Linked DNA regions of Homo sapiens. The protein of the gene in region 2 purifies or fractionates together with the protein of the main gene of each other region. This does not show direct contact. Each region holds a gene or a part of one and is shown on either strand. Other genes may lie near its edges. The genes, in order: DNAJC3, FBXO38, KIF20B, ARB2A, DEDD2 and DEDD.

The links.
Region 1: the proteins of FBXO38 (region 2) and DNAJC3 purify together in Homo sapiens (co-immunoprecipitation; one large-scale study listed by IntAct). This does not show direct contact.
Region 3: the proteins of FBXO38 (region 2) and KIF20B purify together in Homo sapiens (affinity purification with western blotting, with the first as the bait; one study listed by BioGRID). This does not show direct contact.
Region 4: the proteins of FBXO38 (region 2) and ARB2A purify together in Homo sapiens (affinity purification with mass spectrometry, with the first as the bait; one large-scale study listed by BioGRID). This does not show direct contact.
Region 5: the proteins of FBXO38 (region 2) and DEDD2 purify together in Homo sapiens (affinity purification with mass spectrometry, with the first as the bait; one large-scale study listed by BioGRID). This does not show direct contact.
Region 6: the proteins of FBXO38 (region 2) and DEDD purify together in Homo sapiens (affinity purification with mass spectrometry, with the first as the bait; one large-scale study listed by BioGRID). This does not show direct contact.

The regions. Positions count from the first base shown.
Region 1 is NC_000013.11:95,756,891-95,760,686, reverse strand, and holds part of DNAJC3 (dnaJ homolog subfamily C member 3 precursor), read right to left. Parts: intron 3,044-3,796; coding exon 2,891-3,043; intron 648-2,890; coding exon 466-647; intron 9-465; coding exon 1-8. UniProt on the Homo sapiens protein: Involved in the unfolded protein response (UPR) during endoplasmic reticulum (ER) stress.
Region 2 is NC_000005.10:148,421,797-148,425,592, reverse strand, and holds part of FBXO38 (F-box only protein 38), read right to left. Parts: intron 1,596-3,796; coding exon 1,476-1,595; intron 72-1,475; coding exon 1-71. UniProt on the Homo sapiens protein: Substrate recognition component of a SCF (SKP1-CUL1-F-box protein) E3 ubiquitin-protein ligase complex which mediates the ubiquitination and subsequent proteasomal degradation of PDCD1/PD-1, thereby regulating T-cells-mediated immunity.
Region 3 is NC_000010.11:89,735,912-89,739,707, reverse strand, and holds part of KIF20B (kinesin-like protein KIF20B), read right to left. Parts: intron 2,322-3,796; coding exon 1,091-2,321; intron 751-1,090; coding exon 612-750; intron 1-611. UniProt on the Homo sapiens protein: Plus-end-directed motor enzyme that is required for completion of cytokinesis. Required for proper midbody organization and abscission in polarized cortical stem cells.
Region 4 is NC_000005.10:94,101,465-94,105,260, forward strand, and holds part of ARB2A (cotranscriptional regulator ARB2A isoform 1 precursor), read right to left. Parts: intron 1-3,796. UniProt on the Homo sapiens protein: Plays a role in the regulation of alternative splicing, by interacting with AGO2 and CHD7. Seems to be required for stabilizing protein-protein interactions at the chromatin-spliceosome interface. May have hydrolase activity.
Region 5 is NC_000019.10:42,197,925-42,200,800, forward strand, and holds the end of DEDD2 (DNA-binding death effector domain-containing protein 2), read right to left. Parts: intron 1,906-2,876; coding exon 1,514-1,905; 3' UTR 674-1,513; downstream 1-673. UniProt on the Homo sapiens protein: May play a critical role in death receptor-induced apoptosis and may target CASP8 and CASP10 to the nucleus. May regulate degradation of intermediate filaments during apoptosis.
Region 6 is NC_000001.11:161,126,075-161,129,870, forward strand, and holds part of DEDD (death effector domain-containing protein), read right to left. Parts: intron 1-3,796. UniProt on the Homo sapiens protein: A scaffold protein that directs CASP3 to certain substrates and facilitates their ordered degradation during apoptosis. May also play a role in mediating CASP3 cleavage of KRT18. Regulates degradation of intermediate filaments during apoptosis.

The DNA.
Region 1 (3,796 bases), on a different chromosome or scaffold from region 2:
GAACTTCACTGTTCATGTATTTAAAAAAGGAAAATACTCCATGTCAAAACAATCAATGAGTAGTTTTCCACAGAAATCACAATAAAAGTATTTTTTGTTTGCAACGATTAAACAAAAACCATACTGAGACTTATAATTTACTATATACATTTATACGTGGCATTGTACCATGCATACATTTGTTAATTCAAATTAAAATGACTTACTAGCATTATATAGTAAACATTCCATTTTGTTTCTATAAATATAAGAGCCTTCCTGTTTAATAAGCAGCTTCATGAAAACAAACTATGTGGAATTAAAGTAACTTGGGAATAACACAAAATATATAAATGGATATACAATATAAAAACAGCCTTAACTACCATCATCTTATTAATTTAATATTAAAATGTTAAAACAAGATGAGGTAATCTTACTGCCAACAATTAAAAAAGATCAGACATGTGTGTCACTAGAACTGACCTGAGGGACAGTTCGTGGTCTCCTAGTTGGTAGTACAGTGTGCTTATTTTATAAAACGCTTCAGTATTATCATTCTTCAACTTTGACGCAGCTTTTAAGTCACTTATAGCTTTCCTAGGTTCTCCTTCTTTTATAAAACATTCAGCTCGAAGTTCCCGTAGTTCTGCATCCCAAACACAAACCTTGAGGAACAAAAGAACTAGACTTTAAGAAAGAATAAATTATGCACATTCATTGTTGCATTCCACGTATTTTTTATCTACGTATTTATCAACATAAAACATTCTCAATTGATGTGATGACTTATATAGTGCAAATATTATTTTAAAATCTGATACAATTTAAATGTGACAAAACTGATGTGACAAAATAGTTTCTCCAAAAATGTTGTAAATGAATTCTAATGGGGGAAGAGATATATATAATAACAAGGCCCTTTTCTTACCTCCTTCGATTATATAATTCTAAGACACTGAAAATAAGAAAACATAGCATTTACTATTGGAGGGTTGTTCCTAGTGAAGCATATTTGAAGAGAATATTCTGTTATCAGATTTTTATACTTAATCAACAATTCTAATTTGTAGTCAAAAAAATAAAACCTAGGTTCTACATTGGCAAAATACTTTTTTCTGCTAATAACCACATTATGTTCTTAGCTGGGCACATTGACTCATGCCTGTAATTCCAGACCAGCTTAGGCAGCAAAGCAAGATCTCATCTCTATAAAAAGTTTAAAATTATTAACTGGGTGTGGTGGAACACACCAGTGGTCCCAGCTACTCAGGAGGCTGAGATGGGAGGATCACTTGAGTCCAGGAGTTCAAGGTTACAGTGAGCTACAATCGCACCACTGCACTCCAGTCTAGGTAACAGAGAGAGACCCAGTCTCTAAACAAAAACCTTTTTTAAGAAATTATCTTCTGTAAATGTCACCGCCTTAAAAGTAAATCCTCATATCAAGAAAAAGAAAGAAAGAAAGAAAAAATACCGTGAGAGGGCAGGAGGTTGAGGCTTCACCATTCCTATTTTATCAAAAAGTCCATAAGGGTTTAGGAAACACAATAGTATTCTTCAAATCATAAACCCAAGAGCTCATCAATAAGGCTGGTGGAAGTATCTTTGCATATTTCTTAGAGCTGCTCTAAAGTCGTATCGACTTTTCACATATACAAAAATATCAAAACCAACATTATACATAAATATCATGGACAATGAACTAAGTTCAAAATGGATAGTCTATGGGAATGTAAAAATGTAAACTATATTTCCTTAAAAAAGCATAAACAAAATAACCCAGTAAAACATGAATTCTACTGGACCATATCACAATATCTTCTGTAAAATTATCAACAAATTGCCCATTCTACATACATCATAAGTTTAGAGCCAAAATTAAATGAAACTGTATATCAAAATACTGTGAAAATCACAAATAAATGTGAATTACGACTGCTTCCATTTGAATATTTCAGTAGACTTCCTTCGGAAATCAGTTGTCATTAAATCCTTCAGAGGCAAGGAAACCTAGACTCAGGTTTCCCTAGCTAGAACTCTCTGGATCCTATCAACCATTATTATTATTAACTTTTTTTTTTTTTTTTGAGACGGAGTCTCACTCTGTGGCCCAGGCTACAGTGTAGTGGCTCACTGCAACCTCTGCTTCTCAGGTTCGAGCGCCTCAGCCTCCCGAGTAGCTGGGATCACAAGCATGCACACCACACCCAGCTAATTTTCTTTTTTTTTTTTTTAGACACAGGATTTTGCCATGTTGGCCAGGCTAGTCTCAAACTCCTGGCCTCAAGTGATCCACCCACCTCGACCTCCCAAAGTGCTGGGATTACAGGCATGAGCCACCACACCCAGCCAATTATTAATATTTTTAGAGGCAGGGTCCCATTCTGTCGCCCAGGCTGGGGTACAGTGGAGCAATCACAGCTCACTGCAGCGACAAATTCTTGGGCTCAAGTGATCCTCCAGCCTCAGCTCCCAAGTAACTAGGACTACAGGCACATACTATCAACTCTTTATCTGCCTTATTCTCTAGAAATTTTTCTCTAAACATTCCTCTTTCCTCCCGAACATCATTTTTCCTTTTACTCCAACCATCTTTTTCATCTTTTATCCCATTATCTAACCGCTAGAGTTTTCTTCCCAAAAAAATACAAAATCAACTAAAATAGCAAAGCAAGCAATTTATAAACATATTTAACTCTCATGCCACAGCACATTCAGTACATTTACTGAAAACTTCAGTCCAAATTTTGTTGTCTAGGAACACTATTTTATACTTAAGAGGCAAAAGCCCAAGGACCAACCTGATTTTCTCCTGTCTAGGTCTTTGTGGTATGTGACATGTCGAAGTATATAAATGTGCCTTACAATAAGTGTCAGGCTGGTCAACTGCAGTATCTAAGAAACTTACCTCTAAAATCTTATCAAGGAAGGCTATAGCAGCAGTATAATCTCCACTTCCAAAAGCGTTAAGTGCTTGTGAACGCAAACGCTGCATTTCATCAGATTTTATAAGTTGAGACTGTGCTTCCTTTTCTTCATTTTCACTTGGATTAGATTTGAGCTATAAGGAAAATAAAAAACTAAGCAGAGTTTTTAATCTCTTAAATCTGATACCTGTAATATACACAAGGGTAAACCATTCCAAATACTTAAGTTCATTGGGTAAAAAGGGTAAAGAGATACTGGAAAAACTGGCTTGTCTGATGACTGGATGCAGCAGGGAAGGCCCTTGATTTCTACCGATATGGTCCATGAGCATGAACAACAGATCTAGACTCAGAAGACCTGGGTCCCAAAAACTTACCGGGAAGCAAATACATGTAGGCACGTGAAAGGACAGAGAAGAACGGAGGAAGGAAAGCACGTTTTTCACTTTCTTACATATAGCTCTGCAGAATAAATTAACTTGAGTTTTATTTATTTTGCCTTCTACTTATAGTTCCTAAGTATTTTTTTAAGTATAAAATAACCAAAATAATGAAACACATAGGGAAACTGAAAGAAGGGGCCAGCTTTTTTAGAGGTTGTAAGATTTAAAAAAAGATCTGATACCAAAAGGGTTAAAGTACAAGAAAGAATTTAGAAGGAAATAAGAGTAATACCTTACTAAAAGGTGCATGATGTGGCTTTAAGAGATCTGCACACTGCCTCTTTTTAAAATAACTTTATAAAGACATAATTTATATAGCATAAAATTGCTCATTTCAAATGTACAATTCTATGATTTTTTAAAAAATAAATTTACCAAGTTGTGCAGCCATCACCACAGTTTTAGACCATTTCCATCACCCCAGTAAGATCCCTTGTTTTTACT
Region 2 (3,796 bases):
TTCATCATCACTCTCTGAATCATGAACAGTAATTGAGGTTGGTTTTACTACACGCTGAAGACCACTGGGTCCTTAAAAAAAAGCACAGGCCTAACAGTTACTTTTTGCGCAAGAAAGGATCTAATGCAAAGTACTGTTTCCAGGGATCTGGAATCAACAGAGATGCTTTGTGGCTCTATACAGCCTCCCCTGGCACACATTTTAACTGATAATGCACTTGGATAAGATACTGTGAAAGCAACTCAACTCTAAACCATTATGTCAACATTAAATATGATTAATATGCCAACCAACTTGATGCATTTCCAAAGGCAAATTAAAATAGAAAATGATACAGCATCCCCTTGCAGGACCTTCACTATTTCAAAGAGTATCATAAAATCATCCTAAAAATAATCTAAATAACAGTGATAATAATTTTAAAACTAAGCTATATATTTTCTCAATTTTTCAAACATATGAGCCAAGGCTAGTAAATGAAGATGAACTCAGAAACATATGGGACTGGTAAATAAGACTCCATATTCTTTGAGTATAGATCTATCTCATTAGATGTAGCAGATACATTTTTGAAGGCTAGACGCATGTTACATTTTGGTTGAATATGTGTATTTATGTAAAAAATGTTTTATCTGCTTGGCAGTATAGCTTTTAAACCTAGTTCTTATAACCTAATTCTCTCTGACAAGTGACCAATATTAGCTCCATCAATAAACGTATGCTCCAAGGAACCTAGCTTTTTTCCTGTCACATTGTACAATGCCTGACACAGAGTAGGCACTCAATAAATATTTGTTGAATGAGTGACTGCATCTCTAACACTCTTAAAACAGGGTAGCATATTTTCGATTCAAAGACAAGGTAGCATTCTAACAGGCAGAGAATGAGAAAACTTCAGTTTTCTCAATTTCAATTCTGTCCCTTGATTATTGGCTGAGTGGTGTTGAGCACATCATTTAAACTTTTGAAAGAAAATTAATTTCCCCATCTACAAAATGAAAGGCTATGCGAGTTAATCTTTAAGGGCCTAAGACTCTATATCCTGTCTTAAGTCAGCCAATGGCAAACAGACGCTAGGTTTTGGTTTGTTTACTAAACCAGGTCAACTTCTCAACTGCTCCTCCTCTCTAACTGAATTGAGGGGAGGGCAATAGCAGAATATTTAATCAGGTCATTTATTTTCCCATCAACAATTTGAGTGTTTTCTTTTTCTACACATACATGGACAAACTCATGCACACGTGGCTATAAAGAAAAAGCAGTTGTTGCTGCAGTCACAAATAATAAAAGACAAACTTTAGTAAGATACATGCAACAAGAATACCAGCAATGTATTACAGTTCTCAGTAATCAATAGCATAAAACGTATCATTAGCTGAAAGGTCAGAAAACAATCATTCTCGCTGTCTCATGTACTTCATTACAGTTAGGCCGTAGTTTCAGAATGATGAATGTGGGATGGATCACATGATTACCTGCTTGTTCCTCATCAACATCCACAGGAATAATTGCCTGGCTGTGAGCTGGAGTATTATTTCCACTCTCGGCCACCACCTCTCCATCTTCTTGGACGATGTCTTCCATCTCATTTAATGCTTCAACGAAAATATACACAAAGTAAAAACCAAAAGAAGTATAAAGAACTACAATGGCAGGCAAAACTGTGGCCGCCCTAAGAACTGAACAGTCCCGCTGATTACTAGGCCTGCCCTGAAAGAACAGCATATACTGCATACACTGTGCTTGTTACTGCAGATATTAAGAAGTATTTAATCAGTCTACAGGAGAGAAAATCACAGATGGGAAAGGATCATTTGTTGGAGAAAGCCCATCAAACTCATACAAACTCAAACAGTTAACAAAGAAACAAGGCAAAATATGATTAAGCCAAAAAGATGCCATTCAGATTAATGTCACTGAATTATATGGGAGAGGTTTGAAATTTCACAGGGACAGTGGGAATTGCTTTGGTTTTAAACAAGCACAACAGCACACCTCCCCCTGAATAATTGCCCAGCTCTAGCCTGCAATATCTATATTTTGGTTATTGCCAAAATGAGAAATGACCTTGCCTAGAAACCTTTCATGATAAAAGCCAATCAATTTTCTTCTTTCATTCAATTGACTAACAATTATGAGTAGCAGTAATTAATGTGTACATACTCTATGGCAGGCTCTATGCTAAATGTTTATAGAAACATTTTCTTATTTATTTCTCGTAGCAATCTTGTGTGAGGGCATTATTACTAGCCTGATTTTTGCAGTTGAGGAAATGGAGGTCTAGAGGTTTTAACAGTTTGCTAGGATTTAACCTGAGGAGTTTCTAGAGCCTACTGCACTACAGGAACTATGAGCAAGTGGGAAATTTATACTCCTTGCTCTTAAAGAGGATGCACACATTCTGGCAAAGATGTTAGACACATAGAATAAGGTCAGAATATACTTGCTAAGAGCTATAACAGTTCAAAAGTTCAAAGGGAACACAGACAAGAAACAACTAATTCTCTCATTGGGTCAAGGAAGGGTTCACTGAAATAAGGTGACATTTCATATACCACCATACAAGAATGCTACATTTTTTGGAAGAATAGTAGTCCAGTGGTTAAAACAAACAAACAAACAAACAAACAAACAAACAAACCAGTTATCTGTGTTGTGATAGAGATGCGAAAGAAAAAACAAGGCTGAAAAGGTAGCCTGGGCCCCAGATTGTTAAAAGCTTGGAAAGCCTTGCTAAAAAGCTTAGAATTGTTTGCAGTAGGCAGAGGGAAACCACTAGGTTTTTATGCAGGGAATGGCATGAAAAGAAGTACATTCAAACATCAATGTGATAAGGTTTTCCAAAGTTGCTGATCAACTGCTTTTAGGTTGCCAGAATAGCCTGTGCAAACATTTAATATGATACCCAAAAGTTGTTTAAACGATTTCTTTCATTGCATTCATTTGAATACTTACTGAGCATCTTACTACAATTTGTTAGTATTCCTTGGAGCTGAGAAACAGTGGTGAAATTCAAGATCCCTAGTCTCATGGCTTACTCTAGTTGGGGGAGAAAAAATTTTAAAAATAAAAATAAAAACATCAGATAGTAATGCCTTATGTAACAAAAAGTGTGATGTGACAGAGAATAAACTGGTGGCTGCTTAAGATCAGATGGCAAGGAAAGACATCTCTGAGATTAACATTTCAGCTAAGAACTAAAAGTCAAGAAGGAGCCAGCCATGAAAACATGGAAGGAGGGAATTCTAGGAGGCAGTAGTTAGTGCAATGCTAGGCACCAGCTGTCATGTTCAAGAATGATGTAGTGGTGGAAGTAGTACAAGATGAGGGCAGGCCAGATCGTACAGCATTTGGTGGTCCAATTTAAGAAGCTGGATCTTATTCTAAGGCAATGGGAAGCTATTAAAAAGTTTTGAGTAAGGTATCAATATTGTTTGGTTTGTTGTTAAAAGACTGCCCTGGTTGCTATAAGAACTAATTTTAGCTGGGCAAGAAAATAGGCCAGTTTGAAAGCTATTAAAACATTTAGGTAAAAAAAAAAAAAAGAGAAAGGTCTGATGTAGTGGTAGTACAATGGGAAAGGAGAGATGTAGGCATACTGGAGAGATGTTTCAGAGACATTCAACAAGAGTTGGTAAATGACTCAACGTCTTGGAGAGCAGGTAGGAAGTAAAGAAAAAAAGCATAATGGCTTGATTTTAGTCTCTGGTAATTAAATCGGATGATGGTGCCTTTGGGCTAGTGAAGATACAAGTGATTCTTGGTTTTGACAAAAAGCATAATGTCTTGATTTTAG
Region 3 (3,796 bases), on a different chromosome or scaffold from region 2:
TAAGTATTATTTGGTAACTACCTCAAAGTTTAAAAAAAAAAAAAAAAGTGCTCCAATCTTTAGAGAAGGTCTAAGTACGACAGAAAATGAAGTGGTCATACAAGAAAATGGGAAGGAGGGAGAAGTGCAGAAAAAGAAAGAAATTGGTAACATTTGATGCTGTGAAGGTAAACTTGACAGCTCGAAGGAGTGGGAAGTATTTCCTTCTCATTGTATACATCTATTATATTTCAAATTTGGAATAATGTGATTGCATTCCCTTTTAAAAATTAAGTTATAATAAAAACTAAAAAATCATACTGCACATTCTCCTAAGTACTATCTGTAAACAAGTTGCTTTCCACTTTTTTGTAAGGACTTACATTTAGCAATTCTTAAAGAAGAAAAAGACTAATCTTTCATAAGGTACATATTTCTCTTAATGTTGGACATTCTTCAGCTTGTTTAAATCAGCTAAATTTTCTCTCGTGAAGTAACTGTTCTTGTAATTTTAAGAAAAATTATAAAGTGGATAAATGTTCTATTCAATCCTAAGATTAATGTCTAAGTTTGATATATAAGGAAAACAATCTTTATCATAAACTGGCCACATAACTTTTCAAATAACCTACCTCTTTCTGTACTTGCTTAATCTGCTTTTTGGCATCAGTCAGTTTCTCTTTCAGGTCAGCATAATCTTCTTCCTTCCTCTGAAGATCTGCTTTCAGATTCTGGGTACGAGCAGAGCTTGCAGAGAGTTCCTCTTTCAATCTAAAAAACATAAACCACTTTTCTATGGTAATGCATCATTAACTGCTTAGGACCATACATGTGAAATGGTAACAATCTTTACAAAATTATATCTTTTCACAAATTTGGAATATCCAAACTATGAATGAGTTCTTCAGAAAATATTTCATATGATTTTTATAAGCTGATCTTTTCACATAACCTATGGTCCAAAGGTTTATATGGACAAAGTTCAAGTTCTTCACTCATCATACATGCTACGCTTTACCAGATTAAGTATGACTATCTAACTTTTTTAAAGCTGCATAGCAAAATGAATGCTTTGTGTATTTTAAAATATTTTGAATAACATTTAGCTTACTTTTCTGTTTCTTGCCTGTTGGTTTCTTCTTCTTCTTCTTTTAATTGAAGTAAATGTTTCATATCTTGCAAATTATTTGTTAACTGTGTGATTTCTTCTTTCAGCTTGAGTTCCTTTACATTTAAATCTTTGGTGTTTTTGACAGAATCCTGAAGATGTTCTTGAAATTCCTTCAAATTTCTTTCTAGCTTTAAGATGATAGATTCCTTTTCCAAAATGTCTTGTTCTAACTTGGCTGAATGACTACATTCAACTTTCTGAGTCTCTAAAATTGTTTCAAGTTCCTTTATTTTTGCCTTATAGCAAGTAACACCTTGTGTAAGTTCTGAAAGCGCTCTCTTTCCTTCAACTACATGCTGTATTTGAACATCAAGAGTAACATTTTTTTCTTGCAATTCTTCTTTCAGCTGCTGTATAAGAGTTTCTTTTTCTTTTAGTAGGTCATCTTGGTTTTTATGCTCCTTCTCCTTTAGTCTATTGTTTTCATCCTTATAGCCTTTTACTTCTGCCTGCAATTTTTCAATTTGTTGTTCCAGTTCCTCAATCTGATGACTTTTTTTGGAAGAGGCCTTCACAATCTCTTTACATTCTTCCCAAATAGCTTCAATACTAGAGTGGAAAGAATTTTCCCTATTGGGTTCTTGAATTCGATATTCTTTAACTTGCTTACTTACCAAATAATCATTACCTAAAAGGTCTAACTGTGTATTTGGCAAATTATCCTCCTCAGAACCATTTGACAGATCCCTGAGATTGAGCAAATCTATGTTTGAAATCTGAGAAACTGAATCAAGAGTACGTAGTTCGTCTATTTTCGTGTGCATTAATTTTATTTGTGAAACATTATTTGTAATGCTTCTTGTAGCAGTTTCTATCTCATTTGACAATTTCATGATCTTTTCCTCCTGTTCTTGATTTTTACTTTTCTGCACATGTAATTCAGCAATTGCAATATCATAATTTGACTGAATTTGTTGGACCTCTTTACTTAAAGTTAAATTCTTTTTTTCAGAAAGAGAAAGTTCCTGCTGAAAATGAACAATCTGTTTATTTAATTCTGCTTTTTCTTCCTTTTCATTTTTAAGTTCATTCTCAATAGTGAGTAAAAATGCTCTCAGTCCTTCATTATTTTCTTGTAAAACTCTGATGTCTTCAATTTCTGCAATGTTCGGTCGCACTTCTTCACTTTTCTTTTGGTCTTCAGTGATAGCTGAACTAACATGGATAGACCCTTTAAAAATAAGAAAATTGTTATTAATCTGGCAAACCTTAATAAAACCAAAAAGTCACCATATAAGCCAATATTCAAACATACAAAACATGTAAAAGTAAACTTCTAATTAAAAAAAAAAAATGAAATAAGCTGTTGAGAAAAAAAGAAAAAACAGGTTTTAAAACATGTGGTATGAGCCCATTTATGTAAAAATTATTATTTCACAAGGTAATACAAAGTTAGCAAAGGAAGTACACCAAAATGATGGCAGCTACCTACCTCTGAGTAGCATTACCAGCTATTTCTAACTTTCAGTATTATTTAAATTTTGTACCACAAATCTTTATTGTCATTTCAATATGGGACAGAGAGGAGGAGATGACGAGAAACCCTAGGCAGACATTCCATATCCTAACGAACAGTTTTAAGCTACAATTATATTGTGGCTTTTACTATATTAGCAATAGGCAAATGGAGTATCTTAAATTTTCATAGCTAAAATTAGAAGGGACATGTTAAAACTTTGGGAATTCATATAATATAGCCTTACTAGCTGTAACCATTAATAAACTGCTTCATACTACGACTGTTTCCTCAAATGTGATATAGGAATAATACCACCTATCTCAAAGTTGTGAAGATCAAGATGACAAATGGGTTGACGACACTGTGCATTGGATAGATTTAACTATTAATAGAACCTGAAAATCTGTACAGAAGGATTCAACTAATTGAAAATGCATAAAAGTTTGCCTTTTTCAGGCTTAATATGTATATTGCTAGAATAAAGATACCCTTACCTGCCCAACTTACTCTACAGAATAATGCTAAGAGACTAAAATGAGTTAATACGTAATGTAAGTTAAATGACTACATAAATGTTGTATACATGTAAGAACTTTAGCCATTATAATCAGTACAGATCAAATTATACCCAGAACAGATACACTATTAGCTACAATTTAATTCATAAGTTCACTCTGACAAATAAACTCACCCCACGTAAGTGCCCAGTATAAATTATATTCTTTTAAACTTTCCTCATAGATTCCATGATTAAATCTTGAAATATAATTAACAATCTTCTAGATATATAAATTTATATCTACATATCTTTTTATATTTCATACAATTTCCATTAAGGGTCAGATGAGTGTCTCAGATCCTCGAAACCTTACTTCAAAACAGGCCAGAATCTGACTCTTCGTTTTTAGAAATTTTTTCCTGTTTTGTTATACTTCATGGTTTGATGTTTATATGATGTTTGCAAGTAGACTTTACAACATTGTTCTGGTACAATTTTTATGTGAATTTTCTACACGACTTTGCTCTAATACAATCAATTCCATATGTTCTTCTGACCGCCATTCACTCCCTCACTGACCATTTCTGTTTAATTAACCTGTATTTTTATGTGATATCCTCACTATGTAAGAATCAAATTCTTCTTGTTTAATGATCCCAGATATAATATGAAGTACAAGGGTTACTAA
Region 4 (3,796 bases), about 54 Mb from region 2:
ATCTACCATAATGACACAAGCACGTGAATGTTCACTGCAGTACTGTTCACAACAGTAAAGATATGGAATCAACCTAAATGCCCATCAATGACAGACTGGATAAAGAAAATGTGGTAAATACACACCATGGAATATTACACAGTCATAAAAAAATGAGATAATGTCTTCTGCGGGAACATGGATGAAGCTGAAGGCTATCATCCTTAGCAAACTAACACAGTAACTGAAAAACAAATACTGACTGCATGTTCTCACTTGTAAGTGGGAGCCAAATGATGAGAACTCATGAACATAAAGAAAGGAACAACAGACACTGGGGTCTACTTAAGAGAGGGAGGTGAGGAGGAGGGCAATTAGCAGAAAAGATGACTATTGGGTACTGAGCTTGATACCTGGGTGATGTAGTAATATGTACAACAAACCCTGTGACACATGTTATCTATGTAGCAAACCTACACACGTATCCCCAAACCTAAAATAATTTTTTAAAAAAAGGAATAACCAGGAAAAAAAAAAGAATACTAAAGCCCTCCCCGTCATAGTGTAAATAATGAATAATTACAAAATGAAACTTTCCTCCTGAAAATTAGCTTTAACTATGTTATATCATAGGAAATAATATTAATAATTCCAAAGTAAAAAAAAAAAAAAAAAGTCAGAGTGTCTTCCTACCTCCAAATGACTGCACCACCTGCCAAAGAATGGTTCTTAACCAGGCTGAAATTATAGACATAGAATTCAGAATCTGGATGGCAAGGAGAATCATCAAGATTCAGGAGAAAGCTGAAACCCAATCCAAGGAATCTAAGGAATCCAATAAAATAATACAAGAACTTAAAGATGAAATAGTCATTTTAAGAAGGAACCAAACTGATCTGATAGAGATGAAAAACTAAAAGAATTTCATAATACAATCAGAAGTGCTGAGAAAAGAATAGACAAAACTGAGGAAAGAATCTCAAAGTTCAAAGACCAATTCTTCGAATGAACTCAATCAGACAAAAATAAAGGCAAACGAATAAAAAGAATGAACAAAATCTCCAAAAAACATGGGATTATGTAAACAGACCAAACATATGACACATTGGCATCCCTGAAAGAGAGAGACATGAGAAAGCAACTTAGAAAACATAATTAAAAATTATGAAAATTTCCCTAACCTCACTGGGGAGGTAGACATTCAAATTCAGAAACTGCAGAGAACCCCTGTAAGATGCTATTCAAGACAACCATGCTGAAGACAAATAGTCTTCAGATTCTCCATGGTCAAAGTGAAAGAAAAAATCTTAAAGGGAGCTAAAAAGAAGGGAGAGGTCACCTACAAAGGGAACCCCATCAGGCTAACAGCTGACCTTTCAGCAGAAACCCTACAAGCCAGAAAAGACTGGGGACCTTTATTCAGCATTCTTAAAGAAAGGAAATTCTAACCAAGAATTTCATATCTAGCCAAACTTTGCTTCATAAGTAAAAGAGAAATAAAATCCTTTTCAGATAAGCAAATACTAAGGGAATTCACTACCACCAGACCTGCCTTATAAGAGGTCCTTACGGAAGCACTAAATATGAAATTGAAAGGCCATTACTGGCCACCACAAAAACAAACACACTTAAGTACACAGACCATTGACACCATAAAGCAACTACAAAATTAAGTCTACATAACAAGCAGATAACAGCATAACAGGATCAAATGTTCACATATCAATACTGACTCTGAATGTAAATGGACTAACTACACCACTTAAGAGACACAGAGTGGCAATTTGAATAAAGAAACATGACCTAACTACATACTATCTTCAACAGACCCCTCTCACATGCAATGACACCCACAGACTCAGAGTAAGGGATAGAGAAAAATCTATCAAGCAAACAGAAAACAAAAAAGAGACAGATTGCTCTTTTAATTTGAGACAAAACAGACTTGAAAGCAACAATAATCAAAAAGGACTAAGAAGGGCATTAAATAATGATAAAGGGTTCAATTCAACATGAAAACTTTAACTACCCTAAATATACATGCATCCAACATTGGAGCACCCAGATTCATAAAATAAGTTCTTAGAGACCTACAAAGAGACTTAGATAACCACACGATAATAGTGGAAGACCTCACCTTGACACCCACTGACAGTACTAGACAGACCATCAAGGCACAAAACTAACAAAGATATTCAGGACCTAAACTTGACATTTGACCAAATGGCCCTAACAGATATCTACAGAACACTGCACTCAACTACAACAGAATATACATTCTTCTTATCTGCACATGACACATACTGTAATATTGACCACACACTCAGCCATAAAGGAATTCTCAACAGATTCAAAAAAAAAAAAAAAAAACTGAAATTATACCACATTCTTAACCACAGTACAAGAATAGATCTCTCAAAATCATATAATTATGTGGAAATTAAACAATCTGTTCCTGAATGACTTTGGGTAAACAATGAAATTAAGACAGAATTCAATAAATTTTTTGAAACTAATGAAAAGGAAGAAATGACATACCAGATTCTCTGAGACAGAGCTAAAGCAGTCTTCAAAGGAAAGTATATAGCACTAAACACCTACATCAAGTAGTTAGAAAGATCTCAAATTAACAACCTAAAATCACACCTAGAGCAACCAAAAAAAAAAAAAGTAAACTAACCCCAAAGCTAGCAGAAGAAAAAACCAAAATCAGAGCTGACTGAACAAAACTAAGACATGAAAAACTATACAAAAGGTCAATGAAACCAAAACGTCGTTCTCTGAAAGAATAAATAAGATTGACAGACCACTAGCTAGACAAATAAAGAAAAAAGGAAAGAAGTCCAAATAAACACAATCAGAAATGACAAAGTGAACATTACAACTGACCCCACAGAAATAAAAAAAAAAAACTCTCAGAGACTATTAGGAACACCTCTACCTACACAAACTAGAAATCTTAGAGAAAAATGGATAAGTTCCTCAAAACATACAACCTCCCAAGATTGAATCAGAAGGAAATTGAAACCCTGAACAGACCAATAGTGAATTTCAAAATTGATCAGTAATAAAAAGCCTACACCCAGAAGAAGTCCTGGAAAAGATAGATTGACAGCCAAATTCCACCCAACATATAAAGAAGAGCTGAAACCAACCCTACTAAACTATTCCAAAAAATGAGAAGGGACTCCTCGTCAAATCATTCTATGAAGCTAGCATCATTCTGATACCATAACTTTGTAGAAACACAACGAAAAAAGAAAACTTTAGACCAATATCCCTGATGAATATAGATGTAAAAATCCTCAACAAACACTAGCACACCAAAACCAGCAGCACATCAAAAACCTAATCTACCATGATCAAAATGGCTTTATTCCTGTTATACAAGGTTGGGTCAACATATGTAAATCAGTAAATGTGATTCAACACATAAACAAACCTAAAAACAAAAACCATATGATCATCTCAATAGGTGCAGAAAAGGCTTTTGATAAAATTTAACATGTGTTAAAAATTTTCAACAAACTAGACATTGAAGGAACATACCTTAAATAAAAAGAGCCAGTTATGACAAATCCACAGCAAACATCATACTAAATAGGCAAAAGCTAGAGACATTTCCCTTGAAAACCGGAACAAGACAAGCATGCCCACTCTCACCACAACTATTCAACATAGTACTGGAAATTTCAGCCAAAGCAATTAGGCAAGAGAAACAAATGAAAGGCATCCAAATTAAAAGGAAGTCATACTATCTCTGTTCACAGATGATATGATTCTACACTTATAAAACCCCATGCTCTCTACCCAATGG
Region 5 (2,876 bases), on a different chromosome or scaffold from region 2:
CAGCGCTTTGGGAGGCTGAGGCGGGCGGATCACAAGGTCGGGAGATCGAGACCATCCTGGCTAACATGGTGAAACCCCGTCTCTACTAAAAATACAAAAAATTACCCGGGCGTGGTGGCGGGCACCTGTAGTCCCAGCTACTCGGGAGGCTGAGGCAGGAGAATGGCGTGAACCTGGGAGGCGGAGCTTGCAGTGAGCTGAGATCATGCCACTGCACTCCAGCCTGGGCAACAGAGCAAGACTCCGTCTCAAAAAAAAAAAAAAAAAAAAATTCCTGGGAGCCCCCAAGGACATACAGGAGCAAAGCATGTGTGAACATGGTTGGAAGGGTTTCTGACTCCGAGGCAGTATTCTATTTCTTCCTTTGACAGAGGACAAGACTGACACCCAGAGGGGAGGACAAGCGTGTGGTTATCAGCTGGCATATGGTCCAGCATCCTGCCCACACTCCAGTCCCTAACGCTGGGCCAGGAACACTCCTCCTCCCAGCCCACTGAGGTCCAAAAGCTGGGCATGGTGACGGGCACCTGTAGTCCCAGCTACTTGGGAGGCTGAGGCAGGAGGATCGCTTGAGCCCAGGAATTTGAGGCTGGCCTGGGCAACATATCAAGACCCTCAACTCTAAAAAAAAAATTTAAATTAAATAATAAATAAAGAGTCCTAGAGAGGCCGATGCCCACCTATGCCCTTTCCAGGGCAGTTTAATTGGTATCATTTGTAAAAGGTCTTTTCCATCACCCCCAAAGCCTTTGCATTCCCTTTCCAAGAAGGTGGCTGTTTACTGGTTTTGGCCCCATGTGCAACAGTAGGCCTTGGTATGATGCTGCCATAACACTCCCATGTGACACTCCAGGTGACATCCAAGTGCAAGTCTATGTTCAGCTCTGGACAGCAGGGGGGAAGGTGAGGAGAGTCAGGTCTGTAAATTGAAGCTGGGCAGGGCCCTGGCTGGCTGGAGATGTGTGGGCAAGGTGAGCAGGCCCCATGTGCACCCCAGCTCCAGTGCCCACTGATGTGGCTGAAGCCCAGGTTGGTTGTGGTCAAATTAGAGGTCCTGAGAGAGAAGCCCTTAGGCCAAAGAAGTGTGTGCTGGGAAGCAGGCCAGGGCAGAGGCCCAGGGAAGATCTCAGCAGGGGCAGTGTGAGCATGAGCGAGTGTGTGCACCTGTGACAGTGCAGACAGCCCAAGATCAGAGATACAATGTGCAGGGGGGCCTTTGGTGAGTGTGTAGCTGTGCCCCTCCCTTCTGAGATACAGGCCCAGCCCCCGCCTCCGGAGGCTAAGGGGGCACACCTGGGGGTAGGAGGAGTCTGGGAAGGAAACTCAGCTGGAAATGGTTTAGGCCTCAGAGCCCACATCCTGTGGGAGGGGCTGTCAAGGGGCCTGCTGTCCCGGTCCTGTCGCAGTCCTCAAAGATGCTAGAGTGACAGTCCTCTAGGGGTAGAGATGGTCGTCCTCCCAGGAGAAGGTGGCCCGGAGACTTGGAGGTGGGATCAATCCTGCCAGTCCTGGATCAGGAGGCCTCTGTCGGGCGCCGCCCCCCTTCCTCCTCCATCAGCAACAGGCGGCGCCGGCCAGCCTCATAGTCAGCCTCATCCACACTGACCAGCAGGCGAACAGCCTCCCGGCCCACAGCCTCTCGCAGGGCCTCAGTCAGGAACACGCCCCGCAGGGCCTGCAGCAGGGCGCCACTCAGGTAGTCGCCCCAGAAGGCGTCCAGATAGGAGAGCTCTGAGAACTTGATGTCACAAACCACAGAGCCCAGGTCCCTTGAGCGCAGCACTGCGGTGGCCTGCCCAAACACGTCCAGCTGCCGCGCCAGCGCCTGGGGCCGCCGGGATGCCACGCCCTGCTCCAAGGCTGGCCCATGCTCGCAGTACTCTGCTCGAACCCGGAGCCGGATGTCTGCAGGGGAAGGAGGGATTTGTCAGGGAGGGGGCCAACACTAGACACACTTATGGGGAACGCCACCCTTCCTCCCTCCAGCCTTCTCCCTCCACCCCCTTCCGGTAGCCACACCCTAGTCCTGACACAGCCTCCCCGGCTCTGTGGGGTTCCCTGACCAAGTACGTCCTCCTCTTCTCCAGCCCACCACCTCCTCACTGCTCCAACAAGCCTCCCCACCGCCAGGGGTGCTCTTTCCCTGGATCTGCACAACACTTGCTCCCTCTCTTCCTGCAGGTCTTTGCTCAAAAGCCACCTTGCCAACAAGGCCCACCTAGGCCAACCTATTTACAGCTGTAACCACCCACCCAGCCCTCTCTGCAGCATGCCAGGTCCCACACCCTGCTCCATTTTTGTCCAAGGCACTTATCACCTTCCAACCTCCTCTGTCAGTTACTATCTGCTCATTATCTGTCTCTACACTCAGCATGGAGAGACAGATGACAGCAAGGAAGGGGTTTTTGTCTGTTTTGTTCACTTGTGTAACTGTGGCACATAGTAGGTGTTCAATATGTATTTGTGAAGAACTAATGCATGAACTAATGGACTTGCCTTAAGGCAACCAGCCTCACACCCTGCCCCCAAACAATGAGATTCACATGGTGCCAACCACATCCCCATCCCTCCCATCCACCTGAGCCAGCACTGCGGATGCGCAGGGTCCTGACCAGGCCCGGGAGGCTTGCGGCTGGACCTGTGCTGGCTCTACTGGGAGTCAGGTACTCTCTTGCCACAGAGCTGCTAAGATGATGGGTTGGAAGCCCAGAGCTGCTGGGAGCCACTGTGCCAAGAGGAGAGAAGGAAGCCTACGCAGGGCCAGCCCCAGAGATAAAAAGATTCCTGAGGTCATCACATGAGCCCACGATCGTAGCTGGATTTTCAGCTACACTCAACTCCCCTTTTTGCTGAAGCCAGTTTGAGTCGGTTTCTGT
Region 6 (3,796 bases), on a different chromosome or scaffold from region 2:
TCCTAAATTCCTGTTAATGCTACTTCTAGATATTTCTTAAATCTATCCTACCTTTCCACCTCCACTGCCATGGTTCAGATTACAATAATCTCTCACCTGGACTACTGTAACTTTAAAAGTTCTCTGCAACACCAATCTTAACCTACCTAAATCCATCCACTGCCACATCTAGTTCAGTTAGCTGTCTGAAGTCCACAACTGACCAAGTCACTTTCCTGCTTCAGACCCATTGATTGCCCCATCGTTATCTATAAGAACACTCCAAACTCTTTTTTTTTTTTTTTTTTTTGAGACAGAGTCACTCTGTCGCCCAGGCTGCAGTGCAGTGGCGCGATCTTGGCTCACTGCAACCTCCGCCTCCCAGGTTCAAGCGATTCTCCTGCCTCAGCTTCCCGAGTAGCTGGGACTACAGGCACCCACCACCACGCCCAGCTACTTTTTGTATTTTTAGTAGAGACGGGGTTTCACCATATTGGCCAGACTGGTCTCGAACTCCTGACCTTGTGATCCGCCTGCCTCGGCCTCCGAAAGTGCTGAGATTACAGGTGTGAGCCACCACGCCTGGCCGAACACTCCAAATTCTTTACACACACATCAAGCCTTCTAAGATCAGGCCTACCTTCCCAACCTCATTTCCCATCACATCCGCTTTTTATTCTCTAACATTATCAGTTTGTTTATAGTTCACATACATCATGCAATTTCTCTATACCTTCTTCAGGCTCTTCTCTTTGCCTGAATGCCCCTCTCCCTTCTCTATTCCACACCCCCATCATCACTCTTTTTCAGATGGCTAACTCCTACTCATTCTTTAAGAGTCAGCTCAGATGCCATCTTCAAAATGCATTTTCTACACCCCCATGCAGAGATAAGTAGTCCTCTTCTGTGCGCTTATGGAACACTATGCATATCTCCTTTACACCATTTATCACCATGTACTAAAATTATTTGTGTATTTATTATCCCATTAGATCCTACTCAACTCATGGAGAGATATATTCATCTTTATATCCCTAGTGCCTAGTAATGGACAGAGCCTCAAATATAGTGGGAGCAACCCACTGTTGAACTGAACTTAATCTCCAAGAGATCACCTCAAGCAATTCCAATTAAGAAACAAATTCACAAAAGTCCAAGAGAGGACCCCATTAAAAACAGATACAGGTAATTCAGTTACCATGCATATATTCTAACTAGCCATAGCCTCCTCTGCAATGTCCAGAACTACCCACACCATACCACACCACTCTACCCTACTCAACAATTAAACAGGTTGCTCTGTCCATTTTATACAAAAAGGAACTGAGGCTAGACTAGGAAACAATAAAATAATAAGCTTCTTTGGAAAAACAAAGCTGATAGAGAAAGCTGAAGAGTAAGTAGGAACTGGTCCTTTCTTCCTCAGATGAAAAACTAAAATGAAAGCACAGAGAAACTCATTCCCTTAAGAAAAGGGGAGGTACACTCTGGGATCACTTAACCCTATACCATGGGTTCTGATATGTAGACAGGAAATGTAATCCATATATAGTTTTGAGAGCCCAGATGCCCCACCCAAAGCATGGGAAATAGCTATTCAACTATAGACTGGTATTCCTTGCCTCTTCCTCTCGATTCACCTGTTGCTGTTACTGGGTACAAATGAAGGTGCTAAAGGAAAATAAGTTATTGCTCATAGCAGGCAACATGAGAAAACTGAGCCTCCTCAGAGCCCCTGCAACTTCTCTTTGTTCCCTATCCCACCTGTTCCCTTGGGCCAGCTGTTGATTGTGAGGCTCTCAGATAAAGCAGATTGGGTAGGTTTCACATTAAACCAACCAGAAGAGCTGGTTGCTCCACAGTTCCCTAATTTAAAGTGTGCTTAAACCCCAGGAAATGAAGAAACACTGTCCCCACATACCCTCGCAATGGAAAATAAGGCAAAATACAGGAAAGCACTGTGGTCCTAATTATGTATCAATGGATGTAATTCTATAAGCTTCAATCCTTTGAAGTTAACTCCCTACATTTGAGAGGAAACAAACACACTAGCCACCTTTAAGTCCTAGATCCCAGGCTAGATCATCAATGTACTAGGAATTATAATAGCTTTTAGGTCAGTGGTTCTGAACCAGGGGCAAATTTGACCCCTGGGGAATATGTGGCAATGTCTGGAGACATTTCTGATTATTATGCCTGGTGGGGAAGGGGACTGCCATCAGCATGTAATGAGTAGAAGCCAGGGATATTTAGAAACATCCTATAGGACAGGTGCAGTGGCTCCCGTCTGTAATCCCTGCACTTTGAGAGGCCAAGGTGGGAGGAACACTTGAGCCCAGGAGTTTGAGATCAGCTTGGACAACATGGTGAAACCCCATCTCTATGCAAAATATAAAAATTAGCCTGGCGTGGTGGCATGCACCTGTGATCCCAGCTACTTGGGAGGCTAAGGTAGAAGAATCGCTTGAGCCTGGGAGGTCGAAGCTGCAGTGGGATGTGATAGCGCCACTGCAGTCCAGCCCAGGTGACAGAGTGAAACCCTGTCTCAAAAGAAAAAAGAAACATCCTGTAATGCACAGAACAGTCTGCCACAACAAAGAATCATGCAGCACAAAATGTCAATAATGCCAAGGATGAGAAACCCTATTCTAGGTGGAGCATGGTAAAGGGTCAAAAGAATGCATGTCACTTTCCACACTAGATCTAGAAAAAGCCATCTGGTCCCTCCATCCAAACCCATCAAACAACATTCCAGAAGAAAAGAAAAGCCTGTCGGACATACATGTTCATTTAACTCCCAAGTCCAACTGCACTAAGGTGTTTCATGCCACTCCAACCTTGGGTCCTCTGTCACCTGCTGTTGCCATTCAGCTGAGGAACAGGTGGTAGTTCTACATCCACTTCTGCCCCATCCCAGGAGGTCTACTTTGACCTAGTTCAATCTGGAGTTCTATGGGGATATTAGAAATGTAATCCTCTGCAAGACAGACACAAAGGATCCTGCTCGTAAGCCTCAGGGTCATCTTTAAAGTCTTGGAACTGGATGAGCAGCAAATTCTCCTTGTGAGGTCACTAATCAGACTTATATTGCTTATTCAATGAAGCAAACATAGAAATATGTAAGTTCCTCAAGGCCATGTGCTTGGGAGAAATATGAGGATACTGTCATGCAGGTTAAGAGGCAGCCCTCTCCACTTAATGCAACCCAGATAAGGGTTCCAAGAATCTATCTAACTTTAACATTAAAAGAATGTGATGAGGCCTCGCATGGTGGCTCACACTTGTAATCTCAACACTTTGGGAGACCAAGGCAGGAGGACTGCTTGAGCCCAGGAGTTCGAGACCAGCCTGAGCAACATGACACAACTCCATCTCTACAAACAATAAACAAAAATTAGCTGGGCATAGTGGGACATACCTGTGGTCCCAGCTACTCTGATCGCACCACTGCACTCCAGCCTGGGGTACAGAGTGAGACCTTGCCTCAAAAAAAAAAAAAAAAAAAGTGATGAAAGTTCAGCTGATTAGTAAAATTAGAAAAGAAAACATGACCAATTTCCTCTAAAACCAAAATATACTCGTATTTCTGTGACAGTGAAGCAAGGGAGCTCAACTTAAAACATACAGAGATTCTAGATGACAGGTATCAGAATGGTGAGGAGAATGTAACCCTCTGAACAGAAAATTAGAACTAACTCAAGTCTTGGTATCTGAAACACTGCCAAATACCAAGAGACGAAACTCCAGCACACAGAAAGTCCTGATCCCACTGACTGGTCTGGCTGTATTTGAGATAGTAACACATGAATTCTCCCCT